Linked DNA regions of Homo sapiens. The protein of the gene in region 3 interacts with the protein of the main gene of each other region in a pairwise test. Each region holds a gene or a part of one and is shown on either strand. Other genes may lie near its edges.

Evidence for each region.
Region 1: the proteins of AXIN2 (region 3) and PPP2R5A interact in binary tests that used the Homo sapiens proteins (3 or more experiments, as listed by UniProt).
Region 2: the proteins of AXIN2 (region 3) and ZNF648 interact in binary tests that used the Homo sapiens proteins (3 or more experiments, as listed by UniProt).
Region 4: the proteins of AXIN2 (region 3) and AMOT interact in a two-hybrid assay, tested with the Homo sapiens proteins (one large-scale study listed by BioGRID).

The regions. Positions count from the first base shown.
Region 1 is NC_000001.11:212,351,410-212,354,909, forward strand, and holds part of PPP2R5A (serine/threonine-protein phosphatase 2A 56 kDa regulatory subunit alpha isoform), read left to right. Parts: intron 1-1,408; exon of another isoform or gene 1,409-1,541; intron 1,542-3,500. UniProt on the Homo sapiens protein: The B regulatory subunit might modulate substrate selectivity and catalytic activity, and might also direct the localization of the catalytic enzyme to a particular subcellular compartment.
Region 2 is NC_000001.11:182,056,392-182,058,712, reverse strand, and holds part of ZNF648 (zinc finger protein 648), read left to right. Parts: intron 1-639; 5' UTR 640-702; coding exon 703-2,321. UniProt on the Homo sapiens protein: May be involved in transcriptional regulation.
Region 3 is NC_000017.11:65,551,649-65,555,148, reverse strand, and holds part of AXIN2 (axin-2), read left to right. Parts: intron 1-3,500. UniProt on the Homo sapiens protein: Inhibitor of the Wnt signaling pathway. Down-regulates beta-catenin. Probably facilitate the phosphorylation of beta-catenin and APC by GSK3B.
Region 4 is NC_000023.11:112,809,832-112,813,331, reverse strand, and holds part of AMOT (angiomotin), read left to right. Parts: intron 1-1,938; coding exon 1,939-2,083; intron 2,084-3,345; coding exon 3,346-3,438; intron 3,439-3,500.

The sequences.
Region 1 (3,500 bases), on a different chromosome or scaffold from region 3:
AAATTATAAGTAGCTCAGAGCTTTTGTTAGTTTATTACTCAAGCCTGTAATCCCAGCACTTTGGGAGGCTGAGGCAGGCAGATCACCTGAGATCAGGAGTTCAAGACCAGCCTGGCCAACATGATGAAACCCCATCCCTACTAAAAATACAAAAATTAGCCGGGCGTGATGGCGGGCACCTGTAATCCCAGCTACTTGGGAGACTGAGGCAGAATTGCTTGAGGCAGGAGAATGGCTTGAACCCAGGAGGGCAGAGGTTGCAGTGAGCCGAGATCACAGCACTGCACTCCAGCCTGGGCAACAGAGTGAGACTCCGTCTAAAAAGAAAAAAGTGCAGAGTGGAAGAATTAACTAAATATTCATTACAGCTAAGTTTCCATGTAAAGAGGAAAAAAATGAAGAGTCGGCATGACTTTCAAAACTTTTATTTTTTTGGCAGTGTAAACCTTTCCTTCCACTCAAAGCTGCATTTTTATAAAACAAGCAAAACAAAACAAAACACCGTTCTTATTCCAAGAAAATCTAACTTGAGCCCCAAAATAATTTTTTTATTTTTCTTTTTTATTTTATTTTATATTTTATTTTATTATTTTATTTTTATTTTATTTTATATTTTATTTATTTTTTTGAGACAGAGACTCACTCTGTTGCCCAGGCTGGAGTGCAGTCAGTGGCACCATCTCGGCTCACTGCAACCTCCACCTCCTGGGTTCACGCAATTCTTGTTCCTTAGCCTCCTGAGTAGCTGAGATAACAGGCGCCCGATACCACGCCCGGCTAGGTTTTTTTTTGTATTTTTAGTAGAGATGGAGTTTCATCATGTTGCCCAGGCTGGTCTCAAACTCCTAAGATCAGGCAGTGTGCCTTCCTTGGCCTTCCAAAGTGCTAGGATTACAGTTGTAAGCCACTGCACCTGGCCCACATTGACATCTTTTTGGGGGCCACTAGTCAACCCAGTGTTCGTTATTCAATACTGCCCGACATTGAAATTTGTGTATGATGAGGGTAAGGAACTACATTTGGGTTTGTTTGTTTGTGTTTTGGGTTTTTTTTTTTTTCAGACAGGATCTCACCACATCACCCAGGATGGAGTGCAGTAGTACGATTGTGGCTGACGGCAGCCCTGACCTCCCAGGCTCAGGTGATCCTCCTGCCTTAGCCTCCCAAGTAGCTGGGACTACAGGCATGCACCACCATGCCCAGCTAATTTTTTTGTATTTTTGGTAAAGATGAGATGGGGTTTCACCATGATGCCCAGGCTGGTATTGATCTCTTGGGCCCAAGCCTGCCTTGGCCTCCCAAAGTGCTGGGATTAAAGGCCTGAGCCACCATGCCTGGCCTGCATTCATTTTCAATTACGCATATCAAATGATCACAAAATTTATTGGCTTAAAATAGCAAGCATTTATGGCCTTTATCAAAGCTGCAGCTGCTTCCATGTAGCTGCTGTGGTCAAAAAGAAGCCAAGAGTGACAGTTTTCCTTGATGGTCATAGTTCTGTTTGCTGTAACTGATCTGCAAGATTTTGGGAAAATACCATTCCATTGGGAGGAAAAATGACAAGCATTTGTTGCCTTAGTTGCTGTGAATCCAGAATCTGGTCATGGCTTAGGTGGGCCCTCTGCTCAGGGTCTCTTACAAAGCTGCAGTTGGAGTGTTGGCCAGAAGTTGAGTCTCATATAAAGTGTCAGATGGGGAAGGATCTGCTTCTAAGTTCACATGTATGTTGGCAGAATTCAGTTTGTCAAGTTATGTTGGACTGAGAGCCTCAGTTCCTGGCTGGCTGTTGGCCAGAGCCCACCCTCAGATCCTTGTCACCCAGGCTTCTCCAGCATGGCACCTTACTTCATCAAAGCCAAGACAGCGAGTCTACTAGTAAGACAGAAGTCACAATCTTTTGTATCTTACTCATGAAGTGACATTCTTTCACTTTTGCCACAGTCTGTTCGTTAGAAGCAAGTCACTAGGACAGCTCACACTTAAGGAGAGGGGATTACACAAGGGTGTGAGGACAGTTAACAAGCTCATGAGATCATCATAGAAGTCTGCCAACCAAAGGAGCCTGCTACATTTTTCCTTTCTAAATAGTGAGCTACCTGTCCCAGTACCACCACTGTTTCCCATGGAACTGAAAGGCCACCTTTGTCATATATTAAAATCCATATATACATGAGTATATCTAGATACTCATATATATCTTTTCTCTCCATTTCTTTGCCAATATAATCTTGTTTTAGTTGCTGATATCCATAATACAGGTTCTGTTCCATTAACTCCCCCCACCAAAAAAACAATTCTTATTTGCTTATATTTATGGATTTTAGAATAAATGTTTCTAGTTCCAAAAAATAATTCAATTGGCATTTGATTGAAATTATATTAAATTTACTTATAAATTAAGTACAGGAAAAATATCTCTGCACAATATTGAACCACCTCACTTATTTACAGTCATGTGCTGCATAATGACATTTCGTTTAATAACAGGCTACGGGCCGGGCGCTGTGGCTCAAGCCTGTAATCCTAGCACTTTGAGAGGCCGAGGCGGGTAGATCACGAGGTCAGGAGATCGAGACCATCCTGGCTAACACAGTGAAACCCCGTCTCTACTAAAAATACAAAAAATTAGCTGAGCCTGGTGGCGGGCGCCTGTAGTCCCAGCTACTCAGGAGGCTGAGGCAGGAGAATAGCATGAACCCGGGAGGCAGAGGTTGCAGTGAGCCGAGATCGTGCCACTGCACTCCAGCCTGGGTGACAGAGCGAGACTCTGTCTCAAAAATAAATAAATAAATAAAAATAACAGGCTACATATAAAATGTCAGTCCCAGACAGGCGTGGTGGCTCAGGACTGTAATCCCAGCTACTTGGGAGGCTGGGGTAGGGGGATCTCTTGAGCCTAGGGGGTTGCAGTGAACTGTGATCACACCAGTGCACCCCAGCCTGGCCGACAATGCAAGTCTGGACTGTCTCTTAAAAAATAAAAATGGAACTGGGCATGGTTGCTCATGTCTGTAATCCCAGCACTTTGGGAGGCCAAGGTAGGAGGATTGGTTGAAGCCAGGACTTTAAGACCAGCCTGGGCAACAGAGCAAGACCTCGTTTCTACAAAAAGTAAAAAATTAAAATTAGCCAGATGTGGTGGCATACACCCGTAGTCCCAGCTACTTGGGAGGCTGAGGCAGGAGGATCATTTAAGCCTAGGAGTTCAAGGTTACAATAAGCCTAGGAGTTCAAGGTTACAATGACCTCTGATCATGTCACTACACTCCAGCCTAGGCAACAGAGTGAGGCCTCATCAAAAAGAGAGAGAAATGTTGAGAGAGAGAGAGAGAGAGAGAAATGTGATTCCAAGAGAAAGAAAAATGGTGATCCCATAAGATTATAATGCTATATTTTTACTGTACCTTTCGTGTTTAGATACACAAATACTATTGTTACAACTGCCTACAGTGCCTACGGTATTCAGTACAAGAACATCCTGTACAGGTTTGTAGCCTAGG
Region 2 (2,321 bases), on a different chromosome or scaffold from region 3:
TCCTGGCAGTTAGGAGTTCCTCAGAAGTTACAAGGGCCTGAGAAGCCCCGCTTAATCAGTGAGGGGCAACTGGTGCCTTCCTGACTCACCCTCATTCTCCCAAGGGCTGCTCCTTATCTTTGGAAGAGGTGGCCTACACAGCCCAGGGCCTGAGAGGTAACCCTAGCTGACACCATCATGGGATGGCAGACTTCCATTCCTGGCAGGGACAGCAAAAGCCAGCCTGGTTTCCAGCTTCCTGAGTGGGGGACACTGTAAGAGTGTCTTAGGAGGACCACAGCTTGGTTCCTACCCTCTCATCGAGTTGTCCCCCATGCTGACAAAGGACACATTTGGTTAGTGGTTGGGGATGAGCACCCTAGACAGGACAAGGCACAGCTGGCACCCAGCAAATGCCCCACCCTGGCTATTCCTGACAGCATGGTCTCCTGGGGCTTATAGCAAGTGGGATCTCCAGAGGGAATAGGATGACTGGAATTTTCAGCAGAGCCAGGCCTCTGTCCTCAGTGAGGCTCAACAATATGCCTGACATGGAGACCAGTTGGAAACAGAGCTATAGTGGGAACCTCAGTCCCTCTGCTCATGAAAGTGATTAAGTACATTCTTTGTGATTTTCTCTTCGTACTTTTCTTTTTGCAGGTATCCTGAGCCAAGCAGGATACTCCTCCTCAGAGGAGTAGGCAATAGAAGCGCCTGAACATCATGGCACAAGTGGACTCCCAGGACAGGTGGGGAGAGGCGTCTCCTCTCAGCAGCTTGACTGAGGAAGCTCATGACACCCAGATGCTGAGCATGAACTTAGAGAGTGACGATGAAGATGGTGGGGAGGCCGAAAAAGAGGGCACCGCTGACCCGGTGGCCTGTCCAAGGGGCAGCTCCCCAGTAACACACGAAAATCCTGACTTGCCATGGCCCCATCCACTGGGCAAAGAGGAAGAGAAATTCTCTGACTCCTCCAGTGCTGGGGGCATGGGGCAGAAACCAGTGGAAATGTCTGGGAAAGCCAGTTGGAGCAGAGATGTGACAAAGATCAACGAGACCCAGGGTTCCCCGGGAGCAAGCAGAGCTCTGGGTTCCCTTCCCAGTGGTCTCGCACACAAATTGTTAGGTCAGATGCAACCTCTTGGGGACCGACTACCTGCGGGTGATGATGGATACTCGGGGGCAAACCAGGACGCAGTCTTGGATGTCCCACCCAGCTTCCCCAGCAATGGAAAGTATCTCTGTGCGCACAAAAGTGTAGACACGTCCGCAGGGAACTCTTCTCTGTTGTGTTTCCCCAGGCCGGGGAGCAACTGGGACCTTCCCACGCAAGAGACACATACACCAGCCCAGGCGTCGGCCACCCCAGCCAGCCTGGCTGCCGCGGTCCTGGCAAAAGCGCGGAACAGCAGGAAAGTACAGAACCAGGCGGGCCGGCGCGAGGGCGGAGAGGCTGAGGCGCGTCCCTACAGGTGCCTGCGGGGCGGGCGGGCCTTTCAGAAGCCCAGCAAGCCGCTGAGCCCCGCGGAGACGCGCGGCGGCGCCGCCAAGCGCTACGCGTGCGAGCTATGCGGGAAGGCCTACTCCCACCGCGGCACACTCCAGCAGCACAGGCGCCTGCACACGGGCGAGCGGCCCTACCAGTGCTCCTTCTGCGACAAGGCCTACACCTGGTCCTCCGACCACCGGAAGCACATCCGCACCCACACAGGCGAGAAACCCTACCCGTGTCCAGACTGCGGGAAGGCCTTCGTGCGCTCTTCGGACCTGCGCAAACACCAGCGCAACATGCACAGCAACAATAAGCCCTTCCCGTGCTCCGAGTGCGGCCTGACCTTCAACAAGCCGCTGTCGCTGCTGCGCCACCAGCGCACGCACCTGGGCGCCAAGCCCTTCCGCTGCCCCGCCTGCGACCGGGAGTTCGCTGTGGCCAGCCGCATGGTGGAGCACCAGCGCGTGCACTCGGGCGAGCGGCCCTTCCCCTGCCCCACCTGCGGCAAGTGCTTCACCAAGTCCTCCAATCTGTCCGAGCACCAGACGCTGCACACCGGCCAGAGGCCTTTCAAGTGCGCTGACTGCGGCGTGGCCTTCGCGCAGCCCTCGCGCCTCGTGCGCCACCAGCGCATCCACACTGGCGAGAGGCCCTTTCCTTGCACGCAGTGTGGCCAGGCCTTTGCCCGCTCTTCGACCCTGAAGCGGCACCAACAGATCCACTCCGGGGAGAAGGGATTCCTCTGTGCCGAGTGCGGCAGGGCCTTCCGCATTGCCTCTGAGTTGGCCCAGCACATACGAATGCACAACGGAGAGAGGCCCTACCAGTGTGAGGACTGCGGCCAGGC
Region 3 (3,500 bases):
CACTCAAAGGAGCCTCGTTTTTAACGACTTGTTTGTGTCCTTACTGATTTGGTGTCAGGTTTAATATAAATAGTTGGGGCGGAAGAGCAGGAATTATCCTCAGAGGGCAGGACTCTGGTCTGAGTGGTTGAGGGGGATGCCTGGGCTTTTGACAATGGCTATAAATAACCTAGAGCAAAAGCAACTTGTTGGTAGGAGCACGTGTAAAATCCCCGGCACACAGACACACACACGCACAGTGTCGAGGTGTGTGCGAAGGGGGGTTGTGGGATTGGGCACTGGGCCCAGCATTTATTTTGGGGAGGAGAATAAGGTGCTGGGTGCACAGAGCCCTCCCTGTGTCCTCGCCTTTCTGCACGGGCCCTTGTGTGTCCTGCCCAAGGTGGGGCTCATCTGCCTCCCATTGGGCCCTCTGCTCTGGCCTCCCTTAAAAGAAGTCGGGCCCAGCAGATGGCCCTCTGCTGGCTCCGAGTGCTGCTTCCAGTTCTCTGAAAGAACTCGCTGATGAGGCCCGTTTTTGTGCGGAGCCATTGGAATCAAGCTTGGCTTCAATTATCAAAGAAAATGATGCCATAGGAAAGATATGCTGGAAGCAGTAGTCCACAATTAGAGGATGGAAGCTCTGGTGAGGGCAGTTTGCTAAGATCCACTTGTAAAAGTTTGCCTGTTTTCAAAAGGTCCCGTTGCCCAGTGCTGTTGGAGTCCTGGCCCCTTGCCGAGTGTCCCTTGATCTTGCCTTAGAAAATGCTTGTTGAAGAGGGTATTGCCTTTTGGGCAGTGACCTTGTGAGTAAATTTTCAGAGGGCTCTTGGAAAGCCCTGAACGCACAGACTTAGAAGCATATACTTTTGAAGTTGCATTGTTTTGAGAAGGGAACGTGAGGAGGAGGAGGAGGAAGAGGAAGAGGAGGAGAAGGAGGAGGACCCCTATGGTCAGTTCTGTCAGGTCAGTTCTGTGCTCCCTGCCTGGAGGCTCCCCTCTGGTTTATGGGGAGGGGCAGGGCCACAGCATCTCATTAAGAGGAGATAAGAACAGGATAGGGGAAAACAGAAAGCAGCCGGCACCTCCTTTCCCTGAAGGTTCCGGGGGTCTCTGCCACCTGCAGGCTGAAAACCCTTTGCTTACTGAGGTTGCAAACCAGGTCTGTGGATGTGAGGCTGATGCAGAAGCTGCAGCATAGGCCTCTACTCTGTGTAGGAATTTAAAATCCTTGCAGCAACTGGAAGCACAACAGTCCTGAGGAAATAAAGCATCTGGGTACAATTACTGTAGCGTGGTTTGAGTTTCCTCCCCCCCCCCCCGCCTTTTTTTTTAAGTAATCACAAGAAAACAGCCCCACTCCGTTTTCTTAAAATTATGTGGCACTTTTGACAAAGGTCTGGGTTCTGAAATACCGAGTCTCTGCCTCTCCCCACAACCCTGCCTCCTTTCTCTGCCCTGTCTTGTTATGATTGTGGGAAAATCCAAGTACTTTATTGCAGTCAACTGAGTTAAGAGCAGTATATTCCATTTTTAATTACTGGTCACACAGTAGTCCTCTATGTTGGAAGTGAAGGGAGACAAGTTTATTTTGGGATCCATGTGTTAAACAACGAGTGCAAAGCCGTGTGAGCACACATAGGGTTTGAGTTAGGTGTCTTTTTTGCTGGGAGGAAGGAATTTTCTATTGAGTCATTTTCTCCCCACAGAGGTTGAAGTATAGCTCTTACAGTGGAGACATGGTTGATGTGTTAATACCACCAAGATAGCAGGACTGAAGGCATGGAAGAAAGAGTGTTTGAATGCTATTTAAGGCTGTTTTGGCTTTTTTGGTGTTGCACCATGCCTGTTAAACTAAAAAACTTTTCCAGTGACCCATCTAATGGTCTTAGGTCCTTTAAGGAGAGTCAGCAAGGTTTTCAGTCACTGCCACGTGCCACTCACTACTTTCAGCGTCGGAGATTCGTGTGAGGACAGGGCTGTCCCTCATGGAGCTTACAGTCTGGTTTCACAGGACAGGTGTTCAACATGGAAACACCAGTGTCCAGTCATTATAGATCATGATAAAGATGATGAAGGAAATTAGGGCAGTTGAGAAAATGGGAGCTCTCTGGTTTTTTGTTTTTGTTTTTGTTTTTTTTGAGATGGAGTTTCATTCTTGTTGCCTAGGCTGGAGTGCAATGGTGTGATCTCTGCTCACCACAACCTTTGCCTCCCGGGTTCAAGCGATTCTCCTGCCTCAGCCTCCCGAGTAGCTGGGATTACAAGCACGCGCCACCACGCCCGGCTAGTTTTGTATTTTTAGTAGAGACGGGGTTTCTCCATGTTGGTCAGGCTGGTCTTGAACTCCCGACCTCAGGTGATCCACCCATCTCGGCCTCCCAAAGTGCTGGGATTATAGGCGTGGGTCACCGTGCCTGGCTGGGGCTCTCTGTTTTTGTTGGCACTCGGTTTTTTCTTGGAATTTTCCTGTGATTTCCCCCAAATTACTGTGCCTTTGTTGGTTCATTTGGAGGACCTCAGAACTTGGTGCAGAGGCCATGATCCAACTGCCTGCTCTTCAGGTGGGTGCCCACCTCTGGAGGGGTTGTGACTCAGCCCAGCAGTGAGCACTGCAGCCAAGCCGGCAGCAGTGCCCAGCCTCTGACTTCTGGTCCCTACTGAGAGTTTACAGAATGTGGCCTCATCACTGGATTCCTAACAACAGGAAAAGGCCCCAAGGAAGTCATCGTGTGCATCCTGCTTCAAGGCAGTATCCACGCCTTACTTACGCACCCAGATGGCTGGGCACTTTGGCCTGTTTTAAAGACTTGGGTGATTTCACAGCCTGTCCCCACCTACTTTATGGATTTCCTCTGACCATTTAGAAGTATTTTTTTCTCTCTAACTTTTGAAGTCTATTTCCCCTTGTTCTTCCTTTAGTGGGGATGCTGAACAGAGAGTCCCCCTTCTCAACTACGAGGCCTTTTTCACTGAATCAACCTTCTCTTCTCCAGAAGAATGAACTGTTCTTTTTACTCTCACCACTCCTCTCTGCCCTTGGTGTTGGGGAATTCCGGATTGAGGACACATGGACCAGGAGGAAGGCCTGGAAGATCTTACCGTTCTCATTTAATTTTCACCAAAAAAATCCCAGGAGGTCGTGAGACTTCTTGCCCTCTACAGATATGAGAACAGGGTCAGAGTGTCCAAGTGACGGTCACAAGTCACTTGGTCAAAAGTGTTGAGGGGTTCATGTGCAGTGCTCCTGGTCTGCACCTTCTGGTCAGTTCTATGCCTACAGCATATTTCTAAGATCTGACTTGATGCAGTCGGACAGGATCCAGGGCACAGCTGTGGTCCGGCTCCTCTGGCCAAGTCTGACAAGGCCTTTGGCCCACATGGTGCTAAGTTACCTCCTTGGGTGGTTGTGATGATTACAGGGGTCCCTTCTGGCTTAAAAAGTTTATGGCCCTGTAACTTTTTGTGTGTGTTTGGTGACTCCAACAAGCGCAAACTCCTTAAAGGCAGAGACTGCCTCT
Region 4 (3,500 bases), on a different chromosome or scaffold from region 3:
CCCCACCATCACCCAGCCCAAACCAGTGGATATATCCTTCTGTGATGGCTTTTCCTGGAAGGCCCTATTGAGAGCTGTGGGACTTGCCCTTTTGAAGGATGGAGTATCTACACAGGGGGTAGGGGAAGGATTAGTACAAGATCTTGAAATAGCAGTCTGCACACCTTGAGGAAAGGGACTACCTTCTAGGTGTTGCATTCTGTGCACAACCGGACAGCCTTGAACTATAAATGCTGCCCAGAGCAGACCAACACCAAGCCTGCTCTTTCAGATGGAAATGTTTATTTTCTCTCCCCAGCGCTTGAGTTTCATGCAAAAGCTTCATCAGGCGCAGGCCTTGCAGATCTTGTCTCTAAATGCCATTCACCAGTTTTCACCTTCTGTGCTGCTATCTTGGTGCCATCTGTGAAGAGAAAAACACTTTTGAGTCTGCTCTTTTCTGTGGCATAAGCCTTATTTGTTTGCAGGCAGTCCTGTCTCTGGCAGAATTTTGGAGATGGAGGCGGGTTGAATCTGACTGGTTTGGCAACCTTACCTTTCCCCTAGTGTCCCATTAGGGGCCTGATATTTCTTCCCTGAAAGTACCCTGAGCTTTGTTAAACAGGATAGTGGAAAACACAGAAGCAATGCAGAATGGTTGCAGAGTCCAATTTAATCTGAAAATTGCTTAATAGACCGTGGGTTTATTTGTCTTATACAAATTATATGCAAATATCTGTGTGGCTATTATATGTGCAATGGAGCTATACTAGTTACAGAAAAACTCTGGAGTCTAATTTCTCATTTTCGGCCTGATTGTGGCTGATTCAGGGGAAGACCCTTTCTCTCTGAGTTTATTTTCCCCATTTTATGAGATTTGCAGGGGTGTCATAAAACACAACTCTGATTATGATTTTGTGTTCAAAAACCTATACTGGTTTCCCATTGACTATGGGATAAAGTCCAAATGCCTGGCATTAAAAGCATTTTATGATCTGACTCCAATCTATCTTAGCAGCCATATCTCGCCAGGTTCCCTCTGCGTACCCCACAGTGTCCAGCCAAATTAAACGACTGGTCATTCTGGGAATGCATTTGCTTACTCAGAATAGAATACCCTTCCCCTCACCTCTGCTCATTGAAATCTGACCCAGCTTTCAGGATCTGACTGTAAATGCCACCTCTTCTCAGAAATTGTTCTCCTCCCCACTTCCCCAACCAGGAATAACTTCTTCCTTGTCTGTACTTTATGGCACTACTTCTACTTTTCTTAAAGATGTATCTTGCCCTATAGTCTTTCATTCGATTGGATTGAAACCTCCCTGAGGGCAGTGAGAATGTTCTCATTCATATTTACACACCCCCAATAGTACTTTAAAGAGTTCGTGTAAATATTTGGCCCTTGGTAAATGTTTGTTAAATTGAACTGAACTACTTCATGAAGCTTGGGGTTTTTAGGGTTGGTCTCTGCTGCTGACAGTTGATCTTCAGAGGCAATTTGACTTTTCTCTCTACTAAAATGAGAAGAGGTATCCTGTCTAGGCAGATAATCAGTGCAGACTGGAACCAACATGTGAAAGCCCTTTGAATGCTTTGGAATATCTACATACTATATATATTATTACTAATATTTTCAAAATTAAGAGTTTTCTTCAGAAATTAAAATCCTTTATAACTATTTATAAAATTTATTCTATCTTACCATCTCCTCTGAAGGCAGAAATTGTCTATTTTTTTAACCCGAGGAAAGACCATGACACCATGAGTTAATTACTAAGCTTATGGTTGAAGGTGGAGATCCTTTCTTGAAACTTGTGTCATCTGACTGTGTTATGCTTGCCTCCTGGCCATCTGTGAGCCCTGGGAGAAGCTGTCAGCGAGGATTTGCCTGTTTGTTTTCAGACCATTTTCCCCATCACCCTCCTACCATCACCACCATTGTCTTTTTTTGTTGTTAAGGTGGAGACAGAAATCCAGCGCGTCTCGGAGGCATATGAGAACCTCGTGAAGTCATCCTCCAAAAGAGAGGCCCTAGAGAAAGCCATGAGAAACAAGCTAGAGGGCGAGATTCGGAGGATGCATGATTTCAACAGGGATCTGAGAGGTGAGGGAACCAACAGACTTGTCTTTGTACTTCTGAAGCAGCTGCAGGGTGGTGAAGGGAAGGGCTGAGCAGGATCCAACTAGGCTCTTTGGGGTTGTCCAACCCACCGGTATGGGCAGTAAATGGCTGGGCATGTGCCAGGCTAATTTTTTGTGACTGCAATAGTCCTCAGTCCCAAGCTTGATTGATCAAAGTGTGGATGTACCTCACTGGTCTTCTGAGCAATGAGCTGATGTGTTAATCAGGCAGGATCCCTGCTGGGACTCCTGGACCCACCTGGCCCACCCCCACAATAGGTGCTGCCTCTTCTTTTTAACAGGTTTTACAGAGGCGTGCCCTTTGACTGCAAGCTTGAAGTATAATGTCCTCTCTTATTTCCAGGACTGACTGACTCCTTTTATTTTTGACTTTCACCTGATAATATTGAAGACTTTGGGAAATATTTCTACTTTAAAGTGCCTTCAGCACCTTCAAAACTGCTAACCTTGGGGATGGTACTTTCTTTTTTTTTTCCTTTTTCTTTTCTTTTTTTTTTCTTTGAGTTGGAGTCTTGCACTGTCGCCCAGGCTGGAGAGCACTGGCATAATCTCGGCTCACTGCAACCTCCACCTCCCAGGTTCAAGTGATTCTCCTGCCTCAGCCTCCTGAGTAGCTGGCTGGGATTACCAGCGTGCGCCACCATGCCTGGCTAATTTTTGTATTTGTAGAGATGGGGTTTTGCCACGTTGGCCATGCTGGTCTTAAACTCCTGACCTCAGGTGATCCACCCACCGTGGCCTCCCAAAGTGCTGGGATTACAGGCATGAGTCACTGTGCCCGGCCAGGGATGTTACTATCTTTGAATTTTGGTTATTTTATCTTTAAAGTCAGGGGGCCCAAATACATGCTGCTAGTTGTCCCTTTCAACTTTGACATTACATGAGTTTAAATACTTTATAATAACTGTGATACTCTTTTTTTTCTGGTTAATGAAAGATATCTTTATATATTTGGGGATGGATAATTTCATTGAAATTTAGAATTCTGCACTTAACTTAGGTTTTGGCAGTGAGGAGTGAAAGCATTAAATACTTACCTCCTCCTCCCCGGCCATGGTCTAGTATTATTTTGGGATTCACATTTGCAAACTCATGTTAGTCACCCATTCCTGTTTAACAAGAAGAAACAGGCTTGTTTTACCAAAGGTCAGTATTTAGAGGGCCAATAGTATGTGCATGAAAGTTTACATTTGAGACCCTGTTGATTGTCTCCAAATTTCACAGAGCGTCTAGAGACTGCCAACAAGCAGCTTGCAGAGAAGGAATATGAGGGGTCAGAGGACACCAGAAAAACCATCTCGCAGCTCTTTGCAAAAAGTAAGTCTGCAAGCTGCAGAAACAGGTATTAACGTGTGGATGGGAGCAAGGTGCGTGAAAAG